Regions from separate parts of the Homo sapiens genome. Here region 1 is linked to region 2. The links come from fine-mapping of genetic effects on plasma protein levels. A gene starts in region 2. The other region holds a variant in brackets. All regions are shown on one strand. Distances are from middle to middle.

Region 1 (2,908 bases), 19 kb before region 2:
CCCTATTCTGGAAGAGGGGGCAGTCACAGGTAACACTAGTCTAAGGTTTAAAATAATCAGAGACAGAGGCCGAGTGCGGTGGTTCATGCCTGTAATCCCAGCACTTTGGGAGGCAGAAGCAGGCAGATCACCTGAGGTCAGGAGTTCGAGACCAGCCTGGCCAACATGGTAAAACCCCGTCTCTACTACTACTACTACTACTACTACTACTACTACTACTACTACTAATAATAATAATAATAATAATAATCAGAGACCTAAGTGAGGGACAGACAGAGGGTGGGGGCTAGAGGTAGGACACAGTACAAGGAAAGTAGAGAAGGCTATGGGTGTGGGCGGGGGACATTCAAGATGAGTCTTGATGAGCGAGTGGCTTTGGATGATGGAGATGCTGGGGAAAGACACACCAGGCAGGGAAAGCAAAGGCACAGAGCTCAGGGGGAAGCAAGGCGGCCAGTGGGTGATGGGCTGGGTGGGCCCTGGTTCCTGGATCATGGGCAGTTTGGGACCTGTGGATCCTGGCAAAGCTCTTGGGGAGTGGCGCCCATGGAGGTCTCAGGAAGGTGGTGACTTTGTACACCTGTGTTCATTGCAGCATTATTCACAATGGCCAAATGTGGCAATAACCCAACTGTCCATCACTGGATGGATGGATAAATAAAACACGGTCTGTCCATACAATGAAATATTAGTCAGCTTTATAAAGGAATGATATTCTGATCTATGCTATAATACGGATGAGCCTTGAGGGCGTTATCCTAAGTGAAAAAAGCCAGTCACAAAAGGATGCATAATTTCACTTACACAAAGTACCGTCAGGCACAGTGGCTCACGTCTGTAATCCCAACACTTTGGGAGGCCGAGGCGGGCGGATCACTTGAGGTCGGGAGTTCGAGACCAGGCTGGCCAACATGGTGAAACACCGTCTCTACCAAAAATATAAAAAATTAGCTGTGTGTGGTGGCTTGCGCCTGTAATCCCAGCTACTGAGACTGAGGCAGGAGAATCGCTTGAACTTGGGAGGTGGAGGTTGCAGTGAGCCGAGATCGTGCCACTGCACAAGGTCAAAGAAAAACAAAGTGCCTAGAATAGTCAAATTCACAGAGGCACAGAATGAGATGGTGGCTGTCAGGGTGGTTGGGGCTTATGGTTTAATGGGTATAGAGTTTCAGTATGAAATGGTAACAGTTCTGGAGATGGACGGTGGTGATGGTCGCATAACAATGTTCTTGCACGGTGACAAAGAGCATTGCTGCATACCAATGGTCGCATGAATGTTCTTCATGCCACTGAAATGCACCCTTAAAATGGTTAAAATGGTAAATTTTATGGTATGTATATTTTATCACAATAAAAAAATAGTGGGGTCTCAAAGGGTCAGGCTGGGGGTTCGAGACATGGAAAGAGTGGGAGATACGGCCAGGCTAGAATAAGCAGGTGAGATCCAAGGTCTGAGGGCACAAATGCTAACCCCAAGCAGCACAGTGAACGTAGGCTCAGAGCCAGACAGGCCCGGCTTCCAGTCCACGCTCAGCCAGCTCTTAACTGTGTGGTTTTAGGCCAGTCACTTGCCCTTTCTGAGCCTCAGTTTTCTCATCTGTGCAACAGTGATAACGCTAGTTATTTCTATTCTCTCACAGGGTTGTTGCAAAGGCCAAACAAGGTCATAAGAACAACTGTTTACTGCACGTTACTGCATGCCAGGCACTGAGTAAAGCACCTCACACATACTAATCCACTCAGTCATTGCAATATCCCATGAAGATGTACTTTTACTGTCCTATTTCACAGATG[C/T]GAAAACTAAGGCTTTAGGAAGGAAGATTCCACTGTGCGCCCCAAGGCTACACAGTGGGAAGAAGAGGAGTTGGGACTCAGACCTGAATTGTGAGAGGAGCCTATGAGCAACAAGGTGAGTCACTGCTGCCACCTCCTGCCTCCTCCTCTGAGAAGTCTCCCAAGATTGCTGCACTGGGGTGACTCTTGTCTTACCCACTGCTTGTTTCTGGGTGTCTCTGGGGCCCCATGGCCTGCTCAGTCCTGGAGTTATTCCTATGTCTGCCTCTGCAGCAGCATGCAAGCTCTCCAAAGGTACATCTGGATGTTTTTCATTTTAGATTCCTGGGTGCCCAGCCCAATGGCACAGAACCGATGAAAGTCTGGGCAACGTTGGAGTGCTCAGGCTGAGGACAGGACCCCGGACAGCTCCACTGGGACCCGTTAGGGATGGTGTTGCTAGAAGGGTTCTATGAGGATGTTGTCAGAGACAACGACAGCCCTGACAAGGTAAAGGGAGGAGGGGAGGGTGATGAAGACTATGAGGACAACAATGTTCATGTAATAATCATTCTCTAGTGGGTTCATCCTCTGCTGTATCCGTCAAGAGAAGCTCGGTTATGCTGCAGTAACAACTGTATCACAGGGGCTTAACACCACAAAGCCTTACTCTCCACTCCTGCAAAGCCTGTCGTGGGTCTGGGTGTCTCTCCAGAGCAGTTGTCCCTCATGCAGAACCTCAGCAAGCCAGGCCACTTGAATGCCGTGGCTCCACCCACGGCAGTGCAAGGACTCCATGACCTCTGCAGCAGAGCAAGAGCACGGTGACAAAGACCAAGGTCACCCAGGTGAGGACAGTGGTATTCAGATTCAGAGCCACTTCTCTGAGCCCCATACCTATTTTTCCCTCTGCCATCCCCACAGTGTCCCATGGAAGGGCTGCAGGTGTGCTGGAGACCCTCAAGGTGAGCCCCACCCCTACTCCTATTCTGACCTCCCAACCCCCCTAAACCTAAAGGCCCAAGCCCCTGCAGCCGGGCCATATTCCCAGAGCCTGTCCCTGGAAGCAGCAGCGCTTCCTACTCTGACAGCTTTTTGCAGGAGCAGGAGGGGTTCATTTGCATACTATAGGCTC
Region 2 (2,901 bases):
CGTGGGCCGAGGCTGCCACCTGCTGGACAAGCCGAACCCAGGCGCAGAGGAGGTGAAGAGGGAGGAGAGGAGCCCAGAGCCGTTAGGCTGGGTGGCCCCCAGCCCCATAATGCAGTATCCATCATTTCTTCTCGGCCCAGGCTTCCACCCACCAGGGACTCCTAGGGCCAAGTGGGTTCATGCCCCTTAACTCACCCCACACTCTCTGCAGTCCCATGGCACGTGGTGGAGACACAGAAGGGGAGACTGAGACCCTGAGGGTTCCTCAGTGAGGCAGGGGAAGAGCTCTGAACACCTGCCCATACCTGGCACGGGACAAGGCATCACACGTGTGTTGTGCACTGAATCCCAGCCACTGGCCTGGAGCTGTAAGAAGCCTCCATGTTACAGAGGGGGAACCAATGGACACAGGTGGCAGGTGTGGGGTCGAGGCTGGAGCCCTGCTACTGCCTGACAGCCCCTTCATCCCTAGAATCTCATGTGAGGAGAAGAGGGAGAGGGGAGAAGGCCTCTCAGCTCTGCCAGCCTGGTCCTGATGGGGAGCCCCTCACCAGCCATGGTGGGCTCCAAGCCCAGAGGCAGGGCACCCCCAGGATGCAGGCAAGGAGGGTGGTGTTGGCAGGGAAGATGGAACCGTCAGGGAAGACCAGGTGCCCCAACGAAGGAAGAGGCACCAATACTGAAAGCCAAGGCCACCCCAGTAGACAGAAGGGAGGCCAGAGGGACCAGTGATTTGCTGAAGGCATCTGGTCCATGCAGTGACAGGGCTGGAAGGAGAAGCCAGGGCCCTGGCTCTGTAGCCAGGGCAGCCCGTGCACCACAACAGCTGCCTGCCGCCAAAGCGGGTCCATCCTGGGGGTCCACCTCCAAGTGTGGCCACTGGGATGGGGCACATGGAAGTTTCTAGAACAAGGCTTGCAACTTGACAAGTGCATGTGAGGCTTGTTTCTGGGGGCAGCTGAGCAGAGGGGTCAGAGCAAGGCTTTGGGCCCCAAGAGACCACTCAGTGTGTGACTTTGGGCAACGGTGTACATCCTCCTGAGCCTGTTTCCTTATCTGTAAAGGGGGATAATAACTTCCTCCTAGGGATTCTGGGAAAACTGAGTCTCAGGCAAAGCAAATGCTAACATTGGTCATTAGATGGGATGAACCTGACTCTGGGGGACGTCTGTGCCCTGGGGGCTTGTGTTTATACACACACACACACACACACACACACACACACCCTCAGCCAGATGCTGGGGCAGGGGACAGTTCCTCATTTCGGACACTGACTGCCGGTGGGGGGATGTGGATGGGGTATTGCTGTGGTCAGTCTGGCTCAGCACCCAAAAGAAAGTGTCAAGTCAGGGAAAATTCTGGGAAAGGGGATGTGGGATTGGGGGAGGGCACGAGAAGGGGAGGGGGCCCAGCCCTGCTTTGGGCAATCCTTGCTCTGACCACTCAGACACCGTGTCCTCTTGCCTGGGAGAGGGGAAGCAGATCTGAGGACATCTCTGTGCCAGGCCAGAAACCGCCCACCTGCAGGTGAGGCCCGGACCCCTGCCCAGGTATGGGCAGATGGCCGTTTCCTCCACCTTCCGCCACCTTCCTGAAATGTGGTGCCAGGGGCAGCTTGGTGTGTGAGGGGAAGGAGGGTTCCCACTCCTGCTGGGCCCCGGGGCCTGGGCTGAAGAAAAGGCCCCACCATCCATCCATGGTGAGGCTCCTGGGGGAGGAAGGAAGGCGAGCTCCCGAGGGCTGAGGAGGACGGGCCCTGGGGAATGAGAGGGTTGGGGGCAGGTGAGGGGCTGGCGGGGACAGCTCAGCTCTCTCCCTCCCAGTTCCTTCTCCGGGATGGACGTGGGGCCCAGCTCCCTGCCCCACCTTGGGCTGAAGCTGCTGCTGCTCCTGCTGCTGCTGCCCCTCAGGGGCCAAGCCAACACAGGCTGCTACGGGATCCCAGGGATGCCCGGCCTGCCCGGGGCACCAGGGAAGGATGGGTACGACGGACTGCCGGGGCCCAAGGGGGAGCCAGGTGAGTCTGCTGGCCTGGTTTGGGGGTTTGGGTCTGGGGCAGGGATCAGAGTGTCTGTCTGGGGCTGACCAAGGGGGCGGGGGACAGCAGGAAGTGCTTGCCTTGCTGCCACGCCTGCCCCAGGGCAGAGGTGGACTCTCACGGTGTGTCTGGCTCCTCTATCCTCAGAGCCCAGGCTTCAGGCCACCCCAGAGGTGACCTTGGGCCCAGCGCACTTCCATCTTCCTTCTCCTCCTTACCCGATTATAGGGAGGGAATAAGAGCGCCTGCCCCCAAAGGTGGCCAGGAGGCTCACAGGAGACAGTGCAGGGAAAGTCTTCTTGCCCTGCAACATGGGCACCTGGGGAAGCTGGGGCCCACACAGTGAATATATCCAATGCACGACTGCCAGGGTTCAAATCCCAGCCCCTACTGATTCCCTCTATGTGAACCCGCACAAGTTACTTAACCTCGCAGTGCCTCAGTTTCCTCATCTGTAAAACGAGGAGATGGTAGCACCTGCTTCACAAGGTTGCTGTGAGGATTAAGTTAACTTAAATATAAAACAGCCCTGAGCACCTGGGAGGTCTATACAGGTGTAGGCTATTTTATCATTGGTTTTATCAGATATCCATGCTCACCTCCCTCCTTAGGATTCTGGATAGTTGGAGGGGTGGGGAGTAGGAGGTCAGGATCGCAGCCAGAGAAACTTCTGTTGGAGGTCCACAGGCAATCCTTGGCATAAGAGAAGGGGGCTGAGGCTATGAATGGGTGACTGGGGCTGGAACTGGAGCCCTGGGGGGTATGAGTGCCTTGTCTGTGAGTGAGCTGGGCACGTCTCAGATGCTAGGCATGCCTGGAGCCGGCCTGGGGTGACACTGAGCGGAGGTGATGGGGTGACAGAG

What was found. A credible set is the group of variants that fine-mapping cannot tell apart. PIP is the posterior inclusion probability: the model's chance that the variant is causal. Protein levels are from the aptamer-based SomaScan assay of Sun 2018.
Region 1: its variant is the best candidate, but not a certain one, in a credible set for the plasma level of the C1QC protein (Sun 2018, PIP 0.87).

Annotation. Positions count from the first base shown.
Region 1 is chr1:22,623,514-22,626,421 of GRCh38, forward strand. No RefSeq gene overlaps it. Among named protein-coding and RNA genes, the nearest start is that of MIR6127, 8.4 kb to the right of the region's middle. The variant C/T (reference allele first, on the strand shown) is at 1,795.
Region 2 is chr1:22,642,188-22,645,088 of GRCh38, forward strand. It overlaps C1QC (complement C1q C chain), which reads left to right and starts at 1,446. Exons shown (of 3, transcript NM_172369.5): 1 at 1,446-1,527; 2 at 1,824-2,017. The coding sequence starts at 1,837.